Linked DNA regions of Homo sapiens: all the other regions are reported to be linked to region 4. The links are microRNA targets in miRTarBase. Many come from high-throughput screens and were not tested one by one. Region 4 holds a microRNA gene; each other region holds the end of a gene's coding sequence.
The links. Region 4 holds the annotated microRNA hsa-miR-652-3p (AAUGGCGCCACUAGGGUUGUG, at 1,662-1,682, opposite strand). A microRNA usually pairs through its seed, bases 2 to 8, with sites in the 3' UTR of a target mRNA and lowers its output. Matches are read on the target gene's strand: a 7mer-m8 pairs with bases 2 to 8, a 7mer-A1 pairs with bases 2 to 7 and ends in A, and an 8mer does both.

Region 1 (4,000 bases), not on the chromosome of region 4:
TTACTAAACTATTGAGCACATACACAAAAAAAGAGTATAAGCAAATTATTCTCGGTATGTGGTACTAGAGTGTCTCTGCACACCATATAAGACCATGTTGAAGACATAGGCATTTCATGTTTATTTTAGTAGTAAATACCTACTTCTTGATTGTCACACCCAGTTTGACTGGGACCAAAAAAATCCTAGAATAGGGGAGAAAACAAATTACCTTAAATTTTTGGAGCCGTATGAAGAATAGAGGCACTTCTTTCTGAGGCATATGTCAGAAAAGAAATGCTTTGTGAATGAAGGATTAGATTCTGATTGCAAAATTTGATTCCTCATAGACTACATGGGTTAGTTTGTGGGTTTCCACAAGAGTACCTTGTCATTTGTCTGTGTTGATCAGTGGCTTTTTCTGTACTGTCTTCACTGCAGGTGACCTGAAACATATCACGAAGCTGAAACCTTGGGGCCTTTTTGAGGTTCTAGTGGAGAAGTATGAGTGGTCGCAGGAAGAGGCAGCTGGCTTCACAGATTTCTTACTGCCCATGTTGGAGCTGATCCCTGAGAAGAGAGCCACTGCCGCCGAGTGTCTCCGGCACCCTTGGCTTAACTCCTAAGCCCCTGCCCAGCACCACAGCAGAGATCACACACTGACCCTCCGCCCTTCCCCTTCAAGCATTTTCCTCTTCCCTTTTCAGGGTGAAGCTCTTCCTTCAAGAGTTTCTAGATCTTGTTTTTTTTTTAATCCAACATGTTCATTTGGGTTTGCTTACTTGACCCTGTGGAGATCCCCACAGCCATTGGGCATCCTAGGTGAATTTGGCCTTGGTTGGGCTCTGCCAAAGACTAATGGACTAAAATGTGAAACAGCCTCTTGCCCTGTACCTTTCCTTCCCATTAGGACATCCTTTAAATTATAAGCATCCTTTTTGAAAAGAGCTATGAAGGTGTATGAGCCCATCCTTTTATTCATTGACTCTAAGAGTCAAATTTTCTAGTGCATATCCTATTGCCAGCATAAGGATGAGGAGGGGGAAAGGGTCTTAATTCTATGTACAGCAGAGACATTAAACTTGCTGTGTCCGGGCTGCATCATCTTCCTGGACTGTTTCTGTTGTTCTCTGTGTTCACATTTTTTCCTGCAACTTTTAAGCTACTGTCTTTTTTAAATAGCTATATGAACACCAAATTTGGGTACCATTTTATCACTGTTCAAAGCACTGTCAAATTCCTTTCATCCTTTAATAGTTAAGATCTTTGAATCTTCAGTCTGATTTTTAATGTAAGCAAAAACAGAACCATTGAATAGTAATTTCTTGAGAACCTCAGGTGTTCTATAAACAGTCCTTTCCTGTATGTCTTCTATTACCCTAAGACCAGAGTTATTTTGGTTGGTTGTTTTGTTTTATTTTTTGTTTTTGTATCCATGGCTGGCACTTTACTCATTGCACTTGAGTTTATTGCCCCATAACTAAAGGATCAGGATGATGGTAGAACGGAGATCTGGGTTTCAGAGCTTTCCCATTTAAGAAAAATAGATCTTGAGATTCTGATTCTTTTCCAAACAGTCCCCTGCTTTCATGTACAGCTTTTTCTTTACCTTACCCAAAATTCTGGCCTTGAAGCAGTTTTCCTCTATGGCTTTGCCTTTCTGATTTTCTCAGAGGCTCGAGTCTTTAATATAACCCCAAATGAAAGAACCAAGGGGAGGGGTGGGATGGCACTTTTTTTTGTTGGTCTTGTTTTGTTTTGTTTTTTGGTTGGTTGGTTCGTTATTTTTTAAGATTAGCCATTCTCTGCTGCTATTTCCCTACATAATGTCAATTTTTAACCATAATTTTGACATGATTGAGATGTACTTGAGGCTTTTTTGTTTTAATTGAGAAAAGACTTTGCAATTTTTTTTTTAGGATGAGCCTCTCCTAGACTTGACCTAGAATATTACATATTCCTCCAGTAAGTAATACTGAAGAGCAAAAGAGAGGCAGGATTGGGGTCACAGCCGCTTCTTCAGCATGGACCAAGTGGGCCTTGGGGATTGCAGCGTTCTCGAAGTGGCTGTAGGACTCGAATTTACAGAAAGCCACAGAGGTGCAACTTGAGGCTCTGCTAGCAAGCCACCAGTGAGGCTATTGGGTAACCACCTTTCTATACAGGAGATTGGAATCTACTTTGTCATTTATCCACCACAGTGACAAAGGAAAAGTGGTGCCGTTATGCAATCCATTTAACTCATAAACATATTACTCTGAGTAACTGGCCAGCCATTCATCGGATCCTTCATTGGGTACTCCTGAAATCAGACATGTTCCTGTAGAAAGAATTTTAAGTTAGGCTTTCTATGCACCTATCAAGAATCAAGAGAATAGATTGTATCAAACAACGGCAGGGAAATCCTTCAGCAATTCTAATCCACTTTGGGTTTTCAGCTGTTTTTACATCTAAAGCAATAGACTAGAACTGAATTATCTTCTACATAGTAAAATCACAATTGTGGAATTACAGGAATTCTGGTGATATTAAGGTGAAATAACAAAACACAAAAGGCCCTATTTTAACAGTTGATGTGACAGTAAGTTTTAATAGAACCTGTAACTTCATTTTGGAAATGCTTCTCCACCAAATAAGGGCTTTTTCCCCTATTTAAGGAGCCAGATGGATTGAAAGATGTGGAAATAGGCAGCTGTAGATCTTGATCTTCCAGGTACCCCATGTACCTTTATTGAGCTTAATTATAATACTGTCAAATTGCCACGATCTCACTAAAGGATTTCTATTTGCTGTCAGTTAAAAATAAAGCCCTAAATACATTTTTATTCTTTCTACTGAGGGCATTGTCTGTTTTCTTTGTAAATGCCGTACAATAAACAAATTATTTAATAACCTACATGTTTCCAAAAATCTCTGTTCATTTGTTGTCCAAATTGCTCTGCCCTGAGTAAAAGGAGGAAAAGATTGGTTGAGTATGCTTTTTTAATTTAAATATGCAATGAAAGTGTACAAATTGCACACTTGCCATTTTGTGGGGTTCATAGTTTTGCTTCTAGTTTTAAATTGGGAGTGGGGTAGAATTAACAGCCAAATTAACATTTTTGGAATACTGTTTTTCAGCATTTTTTTTTTAATTGTTTTTCCCTACATCCAATAGCACTTTCTTCCAGAAGATTTGTCAGGGGTGGTTGTTTTTCTCAAATTATAAATGCACGGTACGTGCAAAATTCAGAAGACTTAGAAATATAAGCTCTTATTAAGGCAATGGCATGATGTATTACACAGGCTTTCATACACTTATCTCATTTCTTGGATAGATTCTTGAACTGTCTGGGCCAGAGAGCACATTTTTGAGGCTTTTAATAAATATTGCCACCGGGCGCGGTGGCTCATGCCTGTAATCCCAGCATTTTGGGAGGCCAAGGCAGGTGGATCACGAGGTCAAGAGATTGAGACCATCCTGGCCAATATGGTGAAACACTGTCTCTACTAAAAATACAAAAATTAGCCAGGCATGGCGGCGTGCACCTGTAGTCCCAGCTACTTGGGAGACTGAGGCAGGAGAATCACTTGAACCTTGGAGGTTGCAGTGAGCCAAGATCACGCCACTGCACTCCTGTCTGGGCAACAGCAAGACTCCGTCTCAATAAATAAATAAATAAATAAATAAATAAATAAATATTGCCTAACTTATCTGGACAACTAGCAGAATGGTTGGACTGTTTTTCTGTATACACCAATGTATGAACAGGCCTATTATGAATCGCTAGTTTGTGCCCTGCCCCCTCCCCACAGGAATATCGTTATAATTTGCATATTGGATTACTGGTGAGGTCATAAACTTTTCATAGGTATTTGCATTTTTTGATTATTTATGTAAATTGTCCAGCTTTCTGTTGGAGTGCTTCCGTATTTGATGACTTGGTCAGGACTCGTTATATACTAGAGATAATTTATTTTTTGCTTCATACACTTGTCTAGTTTTTAATTTACTTTTCATTTTTATTTGTGGTAGTTTTTA
Region 2 (4,000 bases), not on the chromosome of region 4:
AATTGCAGGATTGGTCTTGATTTGAGCAATGGTAAACCTCGAGACAACAAACAAGCAGGGGTGTTTGAACCAACCATAGTTAAAGTTAAGAGTTTGAAATTTGCAACAGAAGCTGCAATCACCATTCTTCGAATTGATGATCTTATTAAATTACATCCAGAAAGTAAAGATGATAAACATGGAAGTTATGAAGATGCTGTTCACTCTGGAGCCCTTAATGATTGATCTGATGTTCCTTTTATTTATAACAATGTTAAATGCAATTGTCTTGTACCTTGAGTTGAGTATTACACATTAAAGTAAAGTACAAGCTGTAAACTTGGGTTTTTGTGATGTAGGAAATGGTTTCCATCTGTACTTTGGTCCTCTGATTTCACATATTGCAACCTAGTACTTTATTAGTTTAAAAAGAAATTGAGGTTGTTCAAAGTTTAAGCAATTCATTCTCTCTGAACACACATTGCTATTCCCATCCCACCCCCAATGCACAGGGCTGCAACACCACGACTTCTGCCCATTCTCTCCAGTGTGTGTAACAGGGTCACAAGAATTCGACAGCCAGATGCTCCAAGAGGGTGGCCCAAGGCTATAGCCCCTCCTTCAATATTGACCTAACGGGGGAGAAAAGATTTAGATTGTTTATTCTTCTGTGGACACAGTTTAAAATCTTAAACTTGTCTTTTTCCTCTTAATGTATCAGCATGCTACCCTTTCAAACTCAAATTTTCATTTTAACTGCTTAGGAATAAATTTACACCTTTGTGAAAATTCATCCCTGCCTATCTTACCTCGTTCCTTTTATGCCAAGTAAGCCAATGTCTTTTTTTTTTTTTTTTTTTTTTTTTAAACCTTGGGAAGTAATGAACTCAGTCCTAGTAACTAGTATTTCTTTAACTATTACCCACATGGCCAACACCTAGAAGATACTATCTTAAAATTGGATTGTGAAATTCACTGGTAAGCTCTCAGGGTTACTTGTGCATCTTTACCTTCTCTGGGTTTAATCCAAGTTCTTTAACTATTGCAGCAGAGACAGCTGCAAAGGCTTCATTGATTTCAAATATGTCAACATCTTCCAGTGACCAACCTGCTTTTGTAACCTAGAGGAAAGATTCATAGAAAAGAGGTCTAAACTTGGGTGGAAAGGCTAAAGTTAAACCATTCTTTGTCAACATAAATATATGCTGCATGATACTGGTAACTGCTACTTTGGTTTGTTCTTAGGTTAATACAGTGACATTCTCACACATTTTTGCCTTAGTGACATCCATTCCATCCAAAAGGTTAAGGGTGTGATCTAAAAGATCCCTTAGAAATTCTAAATTGTCTTAAAATTTTGAACCAGTAGCATCTGTTATGTGTACCTAAGGCTAATGTAACAGAATCAGTTCCCCTAGAAAGCATGTGATCCAAATGCTCTCAGTGGCTGGGGGTAGTGGCTCACACCTGAAATCTCAACACTTGGGGAGCCTAAGGCAAGAGGATCAATTGAACTCAGGAGTTCAAAACCAGCCTGGGCGACATAGACCTTGTCTCTACGAAATGAAGAAGGCGTGGTGCACCTGTAGTTCGAGGTAATGGGAGGCTAAGGCAGGAGGAATATTTGAGCCTAGGAGTTTTGAGGCTGCAGTGAGCTATGATGGTGCCACTGCACTCCAGCCTGGACAACAGAGCAAGACCTTATCTCAAAAATAGAAATAAATGCTCTTGGTTACTCTTCTGGTAGGGAAAGACTAGAGCTAACTACATGAATAAGCTCACTTAAGGCTAACAGGAAGACAAATTTCATAAAAGGGAATAGGGTTATACTCACAGCTTGCTTTATGGCTGGAATTGGTCCTATTCCCATAATGGAAGGCTCCACACCCACTTGGGACCAGGAAACTATCCGTGCTAAAGGTGTAAGCCCACGTTTATCAGCTTCTGACTTCTTCATAAGAACGACAGCTGCAGCACCATCATTTATTCCTGTAAAATATGAGTGACTTAATTTCTACCATGCTTATTAACCTCAGTTACATATCTGTGGCTTCTTTACCACCTGAAGACATGAGTTAAATGATTTTACCTGTTGGCTAAGGCATTTACTATAATTCAACAGACTTTACATAGAAATTATGTTTGGCAATATATTGACCACAAAACTTTCCAACTAGAGAAAGTGGTAGGATTACAGTAGTCGGGGCTGGGCGTGGTGGCTCACGCCTGTAATCCCAGCACTTTGGGAGGTGGAGGAGGGTGAATCACCTGAGGTCAGGAGTTTGAGACCAGCCTGACCAATAGGGTGAAAGCCATCTCTACTTAAAATAGAAAAATCAGCCGGTGTGGTGGTGTGCGCCTGTAGTCCCAGCCACTCAGGAGGCTGAGACAGGAGAATTGCTTGAACCTGGGAGGCGGAGATTGCAGTGAGCCAAGATTGCACCACTGCACTCCAGCCTGGGCGACAGAGTGAGGCTCCGTCTCAAAAAGAAAAAAAAAGGATTACAGCAGTTGGGGAGGGGAGATCTCTGACAGGAAATGGAAGAATAAGCCTGGGCTTCACAAGGAGGTATTGGGAGTTTCTGGTACTGGAAAAATACAAAGGTAGATAAACTGAAGTTCCCTAATTTACTTCTTCATTTGTATGTCTAGTTGGGATGTCAAGAAACCAAATTAATTCTTTCAGTATAGGTTAAGTCAATGATCAAATACAGAGAAATGACATGTTTCCTTAAACTGTTTTAAGAATAATTTTGTACATAAATATTGAGTTGGGTGTGGTGGCTCATGCCTGTAGTCCCCCAGCTACTTGGGAGGTTAAGGCAGGGGGCTCACTTGAGCCCAGGAGTTTGAGGCTGCAAGTGAGCAATGATCATATTGCTGCACACGAACCTGGCTGGCAGAGTGAGTCCCTGTCCCAAAAAATAGTACTTTTGTATATAAATAAAGAGAAAAATATTCACTCGGTAGACATTATAGAACATAGTATTCCCCCAGATGTCCTTCAGAAAATCTAACCTGAAGCATTGGCTGGGGTGACTGTTCCCGTTCCATCAGTAAGAAAGTAAGGCTTTAGCTTGGACATGGCTTCTATGTTGCTCCCATGGCGAGGAAACTCATCTGTTTTAACTTCAATAAGACCTAAGCAAAGGAAAACCAATTACTCAAGATTAGTCCAGAGACAGAAGTAAGTGTGCTGGGAATGGTGGGTTCTCTGCCATTAAACATGAGGATTCATATTTAGCAGAAAAGTTTTAATATGTGACCACTTTGATGACAACAGGAGGAAAGTACACACAAGAATTATTGTACATGAAAACAATTTATGAGTATGTCCTTATGAGACACCTGTGTTTTCCAAATCCATAGGCCTTCCTGAGGAAAGTAGCTACCAGGGACCTGTTTGTGCCAAATTCTGCTATAGTTTGGGTCATAGTACTTGGCTGGTTACGAGTGAGTGGATCAGGCAGTCTCAAAGCCAATCGTGCACTGCTGGCAGGACATAAGAGATATCAGTTATCAATAAGGGAGCTTGACGGGAGCATTCTGTATTAGAAAATAGCGAGTGACCCCAAAAGATCCACCCTTTAGAAATGTGAAATGGAGATCACACAGAAACAGCGAGAAGTAATGGGTGTCCACTTCTGAGGAGGTTGAGCCTATACAGGAAACAGGTCAGCTGGTGCCTCCTAACAACCATGAGCCAGTGCTCCAGCTTCTCATGAAACCTGCTGTGTGTGCACAGTGGTCATGGACGCTCTGGAACCAAGAGTGCTTGAGTGCTGACATAGGTCCCATGTTACCGTGTCCTGTAAACCCAGCATACCCCCTCCCCACATTCATGTATCCAGGACATATATTTGCAACCTGAAAAACATAACTAAGATATAATTTCTAAAGATTCCTATGTATTACTCTTTTAGATGTTACTCTTACCTATAAATAGGTTGATGTTTAAACCACTATGATATACTCACCTTTTCTAGTTGACACCAAAACTGGTACAATCTCTTTGTCAAAA
Region 3 (4,000 bases), not on the chromosome of region 4:
AAACACGAGGCTTCCATGGAAGCTTCTTGCCGGAGGCTGGACACTGAGGAATGGACAGGATCAACACTCTTCCACCGGCTCTTCCACCTCCCGATCACTTCCACCATCGCTGGGGGAAGAACGAATGCACCGCGTGGAGTGCTTCCGCCACAAAGCAGCACATCACCTCTGCTCGGAGACCCTGCTGGTGACCCTCAGCCAGCCTCATAGGCCACAGCAGGTCTCACAGCCATGCCCACTCGCAGGGAGGCAGGGAAGCCCCAGCCCCCACCGGTCCGGCACAGGAAGGAGACCTGGACCCTGGGAGTGCCGGTCTCGCCTCCCACTCTCCTGGGTGAGTGACAGCGACGCTGCCAGGTGGGTGGTCCATCAGTTAGACCTGGTCCGTGAGTAGCCTCCTAGGTGGATACAAACATGACAGCGTCCCACAGAGCACCTCGCCTCCTTCTGGAAATGCATAGACAGCTCCTATGTTCTTCTCTCCATCTGGGCATCATTTACTCTTCCTTCACTTGCACTGCTGTCCCCAGTTGATCTTACTTTAAAAGTCCCTCAGAGAATAACCTAATAACGTACACCTGAATAGCACTTCTAACTTCTCACAGTATTTTCAATCCGTCTTTCAGTTCATTGGCACCACACCTTCAGGAGACAGGGAGGACATTGGCAAGACAGGGCTGGCATCTGGCAGGGCCCCAGGCCACCCGTAGGTCTCGCGAGTGCAGGGACAGCTCCTGACAGGATGACCCTGCCGGCCCACGTGCCCACTCCTCCTCTCTCTGCAGTCGCCTTTCTCTGTGCCCATGAGGACCTGCTCAGCCCACCTTTGGGTGGCTTGGAAGTGCCTGGGATTTAAGTCCCCACACGGTCACCCTCAACCACCAGTGACGAGCATCTGTGGATAAACGCCCCCCCCCCCCCAGTCCTCATCCCCTACAGGACACCAAGGTCCATTCCGCCAGAGCTCAGGGGACACAACAAGGTGGCACCCGGTGTCGCTCTGGTTCTGTGCCCTGGAAGCTCCTCTCCCTCCCTGACTCACATCCCCACTCCCCATCCTGACTTCCGAGATCACCTCCCAGTGGTGCACCTGCATCCCAGCCCTCGTCATGGCAGGCGGCAGCAACCCTGGTTCATTGATGGGGAAACGTGTTGCCCCCCAGGGAGTGCTTGACAGTGTCTGGGGCACTTTTGGTTGGCCCTGCTTGTGTGTGGGGTGCTCCCGACATCTTGTGGTGGAGCCCAGGGATGCTGAACACCCGGCAGTGCCCAGGATGGGCCCGGAGCACAACCCAGCCCCAGATGTCCACAGTGCCGATGCCCAGGATTCCTGGCCTGGTTCTGCAGAATTCTTTTATTAATCACTTATTCTGGACTGAAGCCTGGATAGGTAATTATCAGCCTTAGATTTCTACTCAAGCAAAATTAGCAGAATCCCACCTTTCCCCGTTGGATCAAGCGTGCCATGAAATCCATGCCTTCTTTATTCCTTCCTGTTGGCTCCTGTGCCACGCTGCCTTGCTGGGGATTTGTCTGTGCAATTGTCAAGAGGCCACGACTGTGTGCCCACGTTTGCATGGCACGTAAGCACATCACACCCAACTGCAGGCATGCAGCCGGTGGTCAGGTCTCCCCCCAGAGCACTGCGTACTGCAGAAACACACCCAGTTTTCATCCACGCAGGATGGCTTGGATGCCCCCTGCCCGTGCCCAGCCTCAGGCCCCTCCTCGGGTTGCCTCCCCTGCAACCAAAGTTTCAGCTTGGCCGTCATCCCCTGCAGGGAGCATCCTTGACCTCTTGCCTTGGAGGGCCTGGCATGCTTCACACACAGCACTCACCAGCCTGTTTCACACGCTCCTACGCAGTAAGGGTGTGAGGGCAGCAGCACCTCTTCTCCTCCTCACCCCAGGGCCCAGGCTAAGGGTGCTCGGGAAGCATCAGCAAGCCATGCTGGGGGCTGTCAGGACCCTGTGGTTCTCAAAACCACATCACCCACCCCGTGAGAGATCAGAGACATGGACAGCACACGCTGGCTGAAGGTTGCAGTCTGCTGAGGGTCACTACAGCGGTGCCACTGACCCATCACACCCTCCCACACTGCCTGTTCAGGTAGTGTATGCAGACACACGCGTATATATGTGGACACACTCATGCATGCACACACACGTGCCATATACACACATGCACGCACACACACACGCTTGAGGAAAGTCCTCTCTCTTGCTGAACTATTCTCAGCCCCAGTGCATAACAGGTCTCCTAGTGGGGTCTGGCTTCTGACACTTTCAGGGGCCCCCGTGACAGACACTCTAGTGCATCAACTCCTCACTTAAGAACGGCTCGAGAGAGGGCTTCCCTTTCACTGCACAACAGAAGCAGGCTCTTCGCAGAGCTGGTTCCCTTTTCTTTCAGGTAATAACGCTCTCCACCTTCTTCAACTGGCCAGACGCCTGCGGGCTGCAATGCCCATGTCAAGCTGCTTGCAGAGGCCCTTTGTGAGGGTGAATGGGCACAGCACAGAGTTCACAGCAACACACACCGGCGTCTGCTCCCCCTGGAGAAGTGATGTGGGTGCTGGGGAGGAGCTTTGGCCCTCATGTGGCCATGCTGCCCCCTCTGCCGCCCCACCAGGCCTTTCTGGGTGACCCTGCTGCGCCCCTGCTGCTGATCTGGGCAGGAGGGCGCTCCCCCCGCGCTAGGCTTCTTGCGTGGTCTCCTGTCTCACAAAACTCCTTTCTGGGAGAAGGGGAGGTGTCCCTGGCCAGGAGGAAAGGAGCCGTGAGAAGGCTGTCGCATCTCAGCATCTGCTCTGGGTTGGACTGTGCTCCCCACCCCCAAATTCATGTTGATGACAGTGCTCCCCCAAGGCATGGGGCTCACTCAACTATGAATCCCGATGACCAGGGAAGGACCAGCCCACTCCATCCCTCCAAGTCCTTACCAGTTGTAGGTGTGGTCATCCTCTAGCAAGGGGAGCTCCTTGCCTCCCCCTGAATCTGGGCTCACCCTAGGGACTGAAAGAGTGCGGTAGAAATGACACGCTGGAATTTCTGAGGCTGGGTCATAGGAAGCCTCGTAGCATCTGCTTGGGTCTCTCGGGACACTCTCGGGAAGCTCACTGTGGGGCAGTGCAAGCCACGCTGTGGGCCCTGCCTGAGGAGGTGCTACGTACAGCCTGAGGAGCACTGAGACCCCAGACAGGAGAGCCGGTGCCATCTTGGAAGTGGGTCCTGCAGTTAATGCCACACAGATCAGACAAACTGCTCAGCTGAGCCCATCCCAAATGCCTCACAAAATCGTGAACAATGTAAAATGGCTGATTTAAGCCACCAAGCCTTGGCTTGTACAGCGACGGGTGACCAAAACACCACTTCTTCCAAGAGGCTCTAAGCAGCCTCACGGAGACATAGAGAAGTCCTGCCCAGCCTCACCCAGCACCATCCAATCCCTACCTGCAGCCTGAGTTCAGAGAGAATGAATGAACTAAGCTATTCGGAAGGTCTATTTTAATAGGAAAATGTTTTTTAGTTGGAACGTTTTGGAAATAAGATAACGCAATGTCTTCTATAGTTACTCATTTACACTGAAACGTGATGGGTAACTTTTAGGGCGTTTGCTTCCAGTCACTTTCCCCTGACTCCTTGATGTGATAATTCCTTCCATAAGATACAACCATTCTCCCAAGTGATGCGATGACGAGTATGTGCGTGACTCTGGAGGGAAAGGGTCTACATCTGTCTCTGCTTGTGCCTCGGATGGGTTTTACAGTAGACGTACCACCGACCCCGCCTCTTCACCAGGTAACAGTCCTTGCAGCGCTTCTTAAGGACAGTCTTGTTTTTGAACCCCAGCGCAGGCAGCAGATGGGGCAGGAGGCCGGGTGAGAGAAGTGAGCGCACTGCTGCCCCGGGTTCCACAGCCACGGGGGCTGCACCTCGAATGGATCCAAATAGAAATGTGGAGAGGGCTCGAGGCTTCACCGTGTGACGACTGAGATAG
Region 4 (4,152 bases):
TAAAATTTGCTATAAGAATAGATCCTAAGTATTTCCAACACACACACACACGCATACACACATAAATGATAACTCTATGATGTAATGCATGTGTTATCTTGATTGTGGTGATTTCCATATATATATATAATCATTAAGTTGAAAACCTTAAATATATACATTAAAAATAGCTAAAGTATTAAAAAAACTCAACAATAAAAAGATAAATAACCTTGAACAGACATCTCTCCAAAGAAAACACACGGGTACTCAACATGCACATGAAAAGATGTTCAACATCATTAGTCATCAGGGAAATGCAAATCAAATCCACAATGAGATGACACTTCATACCCACTAGCATGGCCAAAATATAAAAGGCAAACACAAGTGTGCATGAGGATGTGGAGAAATTGGAACCCTTTTATACTGTCGGTAGGGATGTAAAATGATGCTGCCATTTTAGAGAAACAGTCTGGCAGCTCCTTGAGAGGTTAAACATAGAGTTATCATATGACTCAGCAATTCCACTCCTATACCTGGGGGAAATGAAAACCTATGTCCAAGGGAAATAAAAACCTATGTGCACCTGAAAACTTACAGATGTTCACAGAAGTATTATCTGTAATAGCCAAAAGGCAGAAACAACCCAAATGCTCACCAACAGACAAATGGATACATAAAATGTGGCATATCCTTAAAATGGAATATTAATTGGCCATAAAAATAAGTGAAGTACTGATACATGCTAAACACAGATGAATCTCGAAAACATACTAAGTGAAAGAAGCCAGTGGAAAAAGGTCACATATTATAATTACTCAATTTCTATGAAATGTCCAGAATAGATAAAATCTATAGAAACAGAAAGTAGATTAACAATTGCTTAGGGCTGGTGAGTGGGGGAAAGGTAGGGAGGGGGGTGAGCTAAATCGTATGGAGTTATTTTTTGGATGATGAAAATGTTCTAAATTTGACTGTGGTGGTGGTTGCACATATATGTGAATATACTAAAAACATTCAATTGTACACTTTAAATGAATGAATTATATGGTATATGATTATAACCCAATAAAGCTGTTTAAAAAACAAACTTTGGATAGCTCCTTATTGCTTGATAAATAAAAGTCCAAATTCCTTAATTGGGCATTCAACTCCCTCCCCTCCTGCATCATCATTTGACCCCCGACCAGCATCATTGCTCACTACTCCCTTTTACATGCTTTTCTATCCAACCAAGATGAATTATGCACCATTACCCATATATCCCTTGTGGTCTCCCATCTGTCTTTCTTCTCGCTATTCCTTCCCCCTGAGATTCTCTCCTCCTGACTCATCTTCACATGTTAATATTCTACTTCTTTCACAAAGCCCAGTTCAAATGCTCCCTCCTATGCAAACCCCTCCCTGTTCTTCAACCCTCACATAGTAGGCACTTAAAAAACTATTTACTGAAAGAACGAAGGTACGTAGTTCTCCTATATGATGGCTCTCATTTACAGAGAAGATAATTCTCCCAAAGCCACAACTTTACTTCTTTCTTCCTTTCCTGGTCACAGCAGCAGCTCACTGCTTCAGCCCCCTTACCCTGAGGACAATCCCAAACTGGTACCTTGATGAAGAAAGTACTGACATTACATTATGCCAGGGCCGCCGAGTACAGTTGTGTAGGTTGTGCACTGCACAACCCTAGTGGCGCCATTCAATTATAGTCTATGTGAATGGCACCCTCTCCTAGGGTTGTGCAGTGCATAGCCATTCGTGGCGGCCCTGCTTGGAAACATTCCTAGTGTTTGAGAACAAAGCCAAAAAGAACACTCAATGAGAGAATCACTATGTTGTCGCTGAGAAGTAGGCAACTCAAAAATCTTGTCAAGAAAAAAGAAATTCAAGAGAATAGCATGGCCATAGCACACAAACAGCATTTGCATGGAATTGAAAACAGGAACATCCAAGAGAAAAATTGTTACTGATGTTTCTCCAGCAGTGGAGAGAGAACAGGACACACATTCTGGTCACACTACAAAGCTATGACAGACATGCAAAAAGGTACAGTTTTCCATGGACTACCAAAGCCTATATGGTCTCGCTCATGAGACTTTTCAACTCCATTAGGTTCTGATTTTAGGTTATAAAACAGTCCCTGTTTAATTTGGCTTCAGGTACCTTGATATCAGAAAGGGCTGATACACACAAGTGTTCTCATCTCTATAAAGGTCTCTCTCTCATCATCAATCGACTTATCAGCCTGGTGATTTATTAAGAAGTGTTTTGTAATGTTGGGGAGTGTGACCCAATCCACTAGAAACCAACAGCCCTGGGTAAGCTGATAAAAATTAGGCTTTGAACCTACAAACCAAGTTGCAGAGTTAGGACCCGTGTCAACTCCACCAAGGCACAGACACCCTCAAGCTCAGTCAGAGCAGCTGGCCAACTAGCTGGCCAAGTCAAAACTGCAGCCAGTAATTCAGGGCACTCCAAAATGGAGAGCCATAAAGGACTGGACATATTGGTAGTGACAACAGGTGAGCTGGTGGTAGAGCTCAAGGGTGCCAGATGTTGCGTTTGTTTCTTCTTTTTGTTCCCCACTCCAGTTCAGTTCAGCCTCCCACTTTCATATTTGCTCCACCTGGAATATTTCATTCCACTTCTTCTGTCTCCTCTAGAGATTTCCTGGATAAGTCACAAAAATTAAGCATTCTTTTTCTGAACTCCATTGGTATTTGTTGGTACTTATACACTAATCACTTATTAGTCTCATACTGTTGTTAGTAACAACAATAATGGCAGTAGTTATTCCTTACTGAGTGCTTACTAGGTGCCTGGCACTACAGTCAATGTCTTACACATATTAGTTCATATATTCTTCATAGCAATCCTATTATGTAAGAGATTATTATTTTCCTCCTGTTTGCATACAAGGAAACTGAGCTACAGAAAGGTTAAATAAATTGCCTAAGGTCGCACAACTAATAAGTGAGTCAAAGAGTCAGGCCTGGAACCCAAAACTATCTGATTCCAGAGGTCATGTTTGTTGCCAATACTACCTTTTGTCTCCACCATAAGATAATTTATCTTTTCTGGAGTTCCCTCTGCCTCCACTCCACATAGTGCCTAACACACCATCGGACATATAAAAGTCCTCCAGAACACATGCGCACATCTGCCTCTGCTCCCTGTCCAGAGCCCAGCCCAGGACATAAGCTGGAAGAGAAGGGAAGACGGTGTAGTTAGCATGAAGGGGCTTGACCTTTCAGGGAGCCACAGGAGTCCTCCTCCTCTGACCCATTTAAGAGAGGATCATGCTGCTCCTTGACCTCAATCCCAGAAAAATATGTAGAACAGGATGACCTGGTTACCTTGAAACTCGTCAAGAAAACTCTGAAGTAACAGAGCCTAGGCCAACCCATGGGAGGGATGGATGGTATCCAGTTCCCTGAAGCAAGAGGACCAATTGTGTCAGAGTCAAAGCCACATGGGACAGCTAATGTTTGCAGTGCTCCACCACCAATGAACTCTATGGCCAAAGTTGGGGTTTTTATGATGGTGGGGGAGAGGTGTATTTTTTTTAAAAGAAAGTATTTTTTACACCTCCTTAAGCCTCAGTTTTCTCATTGTTTAAAACAGAAATAAGAATACCTACCATTTGCAGTGCTTCTAAGGCATAAAATGAGAATGTAATAAAAGCACCTATTTCCTGGTGCCTACATCAGTTTGTTCTTCCTGAGGTTCTGAGCACACAGTGATGCAGGACATAATTCCTGTCTGCAAGAAGCTCACAGTCTGGCTAGCAAAGGTCTTCTACGGCACCCTGTCAACCAAAATTAAAGCTGGTTGGTGAGTTAGCCTAACTCTCAGCAAGACATTTTATCAAAGGAAAATTTTGGTGGGAAAGAAGGTAAGAGCTGTTGGCAAGAGTAAAGATTGTGGGTTATATCTTTGCTTTCCTATCTTTGCTGCAAATCTCCCATCCACACCTTTGTATTAAAAAATTGGGAAAGGGGACTCCATTAATCACTGTTTTAAAAAATGATGCATGTAGGCCAGGCATGGTGGCTCACGCCTGTAATCCCAGCACTTTGGGAGGCCAAGGTGGGCAGATCATGAGGTGAAAAGATCAAGACCATCCTGGCCAACATGGTGAAACCCCGTCTCTACTAAAAATACAAAAAA
Region 5 (4,000 bases), not on the chromosome of region 4:
AATTAATAATGAAAATGACTAATTTTCATATATTTTAGCCATTTCCCCAAATTAGTTAGGAAATGTGCTTTAGAGAAAATCATCAAGGAAGAAATAAGACTAGATTTAAGGTTACAGCCAGGGAAAGTTATTAATTAGTAGCAAGAGTATATCCCATTAGCTTTGCCAATCAAAATTATTGTTACAGAAATTATAAAATGCATACTCTTTTGTATATATTTATTGTTCCTCTCTCTTTGATAATCCTTAGCATTATCACTTAATGTAAGAAAGAACAGGACAGGGAATTAAGTAACCTCAGTTCTCATCCTGCTGTGCAACTTTGGAAAAGTCATTTATTTCTGGGCCTCACTAACTGTGTCTGTAAAATAAAACCATTTTAGAATTTGGGAGCTGAAATGGACCTTTGAGATCATGATCTTTATAGTTCCACCCAGTTCTAAAGTCATATTTACACAAACATCAACTTTTAGAGAGGGAATATATTCCACGTTGAGAAATGTATTACTTTAACGGATGTAACAGGATATTTTGTTTCCTGATTGGAATAAGTTATCACTTTTAATTTTAGAATAAGTTTCTACAGATGTTTTAGCATTTCAATAAGTGAATCCTCTTGCTCCTGCTCCCATACCCTTGCAATTCAACACAATGACTACTCTTTTGCTTATGTAGTCAAGTTCTCTATTTACATCAGTTGAAAGAATTTCATTATCCTACAAAGTTACAGATGCTTCCAATTTTAAGGCATAATGTATTATAATCAATTTGGTTTTCTTGTAATAATAAAGCCTTGTCAGTGACCTGCTTGGCATGATGTACAAAAAAAGAGAGAAGGCAGAATTCACAGTTATTCTGAACTTTAGTATTATATTGACATTCCTGGACCTCTGATATAATTTAATTCAATTCACATTTACTGAGAATTGTATCTGATTTTGTGCCATAGCATAAGTTTCCTAGGGGCATCTTTTTATCCTAAGCACAAAGCACAATGTTTAGAACTTAGTGGGTTTTCAAAATGTTTCCAGAATGACTATATATAATTCACGGTCTCTGCTTCCAGAGAGCTTATAATATAGCAGGAAAGATGGAAATATGACAAATGACAAAATGAAATAAAATACTAAATCACATGGCGGTGTCTGTGTTATACAGAGTGGCCACCAGAGATGTTAATGTTGTAAACCCTGGAACCTGTGAATATGTTGTTACACAGCAAAAGAAAACTTAGGTTGCAGATGGAATAAGGTTCTGATCAGATGACCTTAAAGCACATGAGCTCTTAAGTCAGAATGAGAAAGACAGAAGAGTGAGTCAGACAGATGTGACATAAGAAAAAACAGATACACCTTCATTGGCTTAGAAGAGGTAGAAATGGGGTCAAAAAAGCCAAAAAAAAAACCAAAAAAAAAAAAAACAAAAAAAAAACATGGGTGAATGCTAGAAGCACAGAGCAGCAAGGAAACAGTTTCTTCCGTACAGCCTCCGGAAAAGAACACGGCCCTGCTGATACCTTGATCTTAGCCCACTAAGACTCATTTCAGAATTCTAACCTACAGAACTGCGAGAATACACTTGTGCCGTTGTTTTACGACACTGTTTGTGGTATAATAGTTTGTTATGGAAGGCAGGGGAAACGAAGCTGACGTCACAGAATTAGTTTCACCTGTGAAAAGGCTTCACTGTACTGGTATTTCACTGAGCCCTGAAAGGTTTGGGTGCAGTGGAGGAAAACAGTTGTCTGGAGTTAAATTCTCGCTATTTCAAATATGGTCCTTTCTGAACAGCACTGGTGGAAAATGCCCAATTTTTGGAAATGCGAAATGTCACCTTGGAAATGCAAAATGTCACCTCAGGCTGCACAACAGACCTACTGAGTCAGCATCAGCATTTTAACAAGATCCTCAAATAATTTGCATTCATATTAAAGTTTGAGAAGCACTAGGTTAAATTTAATAAAAACTTTTTAAAGGTGCAGAAATCTTTGATTCTTCTTTTTTGACACACAAATGGTTGGAAAAAAGTATTTAAACACACCAGGTTGCTATTTGTTACCACTGCCAATAGGAAAAATAAAAAAAATCTGCTCTTAATGAAGAAGGCCTTTCACCCTTTAGTAAAATCCATCTGCCCCTACGTACAAAGGATTTTCCTTCTTTGAAAACTCCCATGAGTTGAAAGATTATAAATGTCAAGATTTTATTACCTTAAATAAATATTAGAATCCCTGGAAGAATACTCATAGAGCCATCTTGTGGAGGACAAAATAATTTCAATCACAATACATTTTCTTTAATTACTTTAATATAAAAGACAGCAGTTTCACATTTCACATATTTGAAAAACATTTCAAAACCCTCTAACAAGTATTTAATGAAAATAAATTTATCGAAGAGAAACAATGACCACAAAATTAATACTACCAAATCATTACTGAGACTTTTTGCATTACAATATTTGGAGAGTAGGTGAAGAAAATATAGAACAGAACATGAACATTTTAAAATGATATTCCACCCAAGCTTTATCTTTTTGCTAAATCTTGTGGACACTAGAATATATATTCAAGATGTTGGTAAAGATATTCAGCAAGCCATACTTCAAAGATGTTAAAACAGCCCTCCACCAATAATATGGCATTGCAAACCCTTCTATCCCATCCCTTTTCAGTTAAAAGAGAGAATATTAACAGAGATTTAGTAATAGTGACCAAAATAAGAAATCAGTATAGTCAAGAAAGATATGTAATTATTCAACATCATTTGGTACGGATAGATCAATGCAACTCACTAAGTGGACAACATTGTGAGGGGAGTGGGTAACATGATTCAGAGTCCTGTGGGTAAATTCATATGCAATAATCTTATTCCAATCAATCTGTAAAGTAAAAGCACTACATCCACATTAACATTATAACATCTTACAGTAATATAAAAGCCAAATCATTGTTGGTACGTCATTTTCTTTAAAGTGAACAATTTAAGAAAACTTCACAAGAGTCTGCACTTTGGAAAGATACGATCAGAGTACACAGTAGAGACAAAACAGGCATCTTCATTGTAATTTTTTTTAATAAATAAAAGCACATTAACAAAAAAGGAAGGTAAGCAGCACCGGAAGCCTTTGACGTTTGTAACTAAATGCTGGTACTCAAATGGTCTAGCTGGTTAAGTTTCACTAGGAGGCGCAAAAAAGGAGCCGTTTTTGACTTAACATTTTAATTCTAGTAGAGATAAGAAGAGCTTGTGTGGGCTTACAGTCCTTCACCTGACTGTCCTTCACCAGTGAGTAGCATACCAGTTCTTCAAATGTCCTATACTTTGGAAAGCAGACCCGACTCTGGAGCACTCGCCTTAATTAGATTCTGAATTTCCTTGAATTTTGGATGGTCCTTATCAGCTACCAGCTGAAGCAGAACAGCCTCACTCGTGGTCACTATGATCCCGGTTCGAGCGAGACGCTTGAACAAAAAGATAAAGGCAAATCAAGAAATAAGCATGAGAATGAACACTATTTCAGAAGAGTAACACTATGCTGGGATGCAATAATTAGTGTCCTCTACTGAAACCGTGGTTCCCAGCCATACCATCAAGTTCAGTGATGGGGATGGATTTCAAGACCAGGCATACCACAAAGTCAATATGATTATTCTTAATATTAGTAAAATGGAGTAGAACGAGTAAAAGGGAACAGGTAGCCAAAGTTATGACATATATGTGCCCAGAACAGGAAAGTCATCAAGGCAAATGACTGTAAAACATGAGATGAGAGAGAGAAAAGGAATGGTTGTTACTACGTGCCCATCACTGAACATCTGGACATTTAGTTGCTGCTATTTCCTGAACACTCCTGGCAGGTTTGTGCTTCATGTCTTACTCATTCATTGACTCAAATGAGGGCTGCTTGTGACTTCTAAATTTATTAAACTTTTATTTCTATTTCTACTACTGAGATTTTTTAAAAGGTGCCTCTGTCCACTTTTCCCCCTCTGTAGTTT

Region 1: miRTarBase lists SRPK1 as a target of hsa-miR-652-3p. The part of its 3' UTR that is shown has no 7-base or 8-base seed match.
Region 2: miRTarBase lists TCP1 as a target of hsa-miR-652-3p. The part of its 3' UTR that is shown has no 7-base or 8-base seed match.
Region 3: the mRNA of MRPL36 is a reported target of hsa-miR-652-3p. The part of its 3' UTR that is shown has no 7-base or 8-base seed match.
Region 5: the mRNA of ISOC1 is a reported target of hsa-miR-652-3p. The part of its 3' UTR that is shown has no 7-base or 8-base seed match.

Annotation. Positions count from the first base shown.
Region 1 is chr6:35,831,909-35,835,908 of GRCh38, reverse strand. It overlaps SRPK1 (SRSF protein kinase 1), which reads left to right. Exons shown (of 16, transcript NM_003137.5): 16 at 421-2,943. The coding sequence ends at 605. Among named protein-coding and RNA genes, the nearest start is that of LHFPL5, 29 kb to the right of the region's middle.
Region 2 is chr6:159,775,270-159,779,269 of GRCh38, reverse strand. TCP1 (t-complex 1) reads left to right here. Exons shown (of 12, transcript NM_030752.3): 12 at 9-772. The coding sequence ends at 225. It overlaps ACAT2 (acetyl-CoA acetyltransferase 2), which reads right to left. Exons shown (of 9, transcript NM_005891.3): 5 at 3,957-4,000; 6 at 2,998-3,120; 7 at 1,814-1,968; 8 at 990-1,100; 9 at 158-611. The coding sequence ends at 441. Among named protein-coding and RNA genes, the nearest start is that of SNORA20, 3.1 kb to the left of the region's middle.
Region 3 is chr5:1,794,895-1,798,894 of GRCh38, forward strand. It overlaps MRPL36 (mitochondrial ribosomal protein L36), which reads right to left. Exons shown (of 2, transcript NM_032479.4): 2 at 3,491-4,000. The coding sequence ends at 3,730. Among named protein-coding and RNA genes, the nearest start is that of MRPL36, 2.9 kb to the right of the region's middle.
Region 4 is chrX:110,052,919-110,057,070 of GRCh38, reverse strand. It overlaps MIR652 (microRNA 652), which reads right to left and starts at 1,742; the gene lies at 1,645-1,742. The region is part of intron 2 of TMEM164 (transmembrane protein 164); the gene reads right to left.
Region 5 is chr5:129,112,318-129,116,317 of GRCh38, reverse strand. It overlaps ISOC1 (isochorismatase domain containing 1), which reads right to left. Exons shown (of 5, transcript NM_016048.2): 5 at 2,290-3,463. The coding sequence ends at 3,317. Among named protein-coding and RNA genes, the nearest start is that of MIR4633, 17 kb to the right of the region's middle.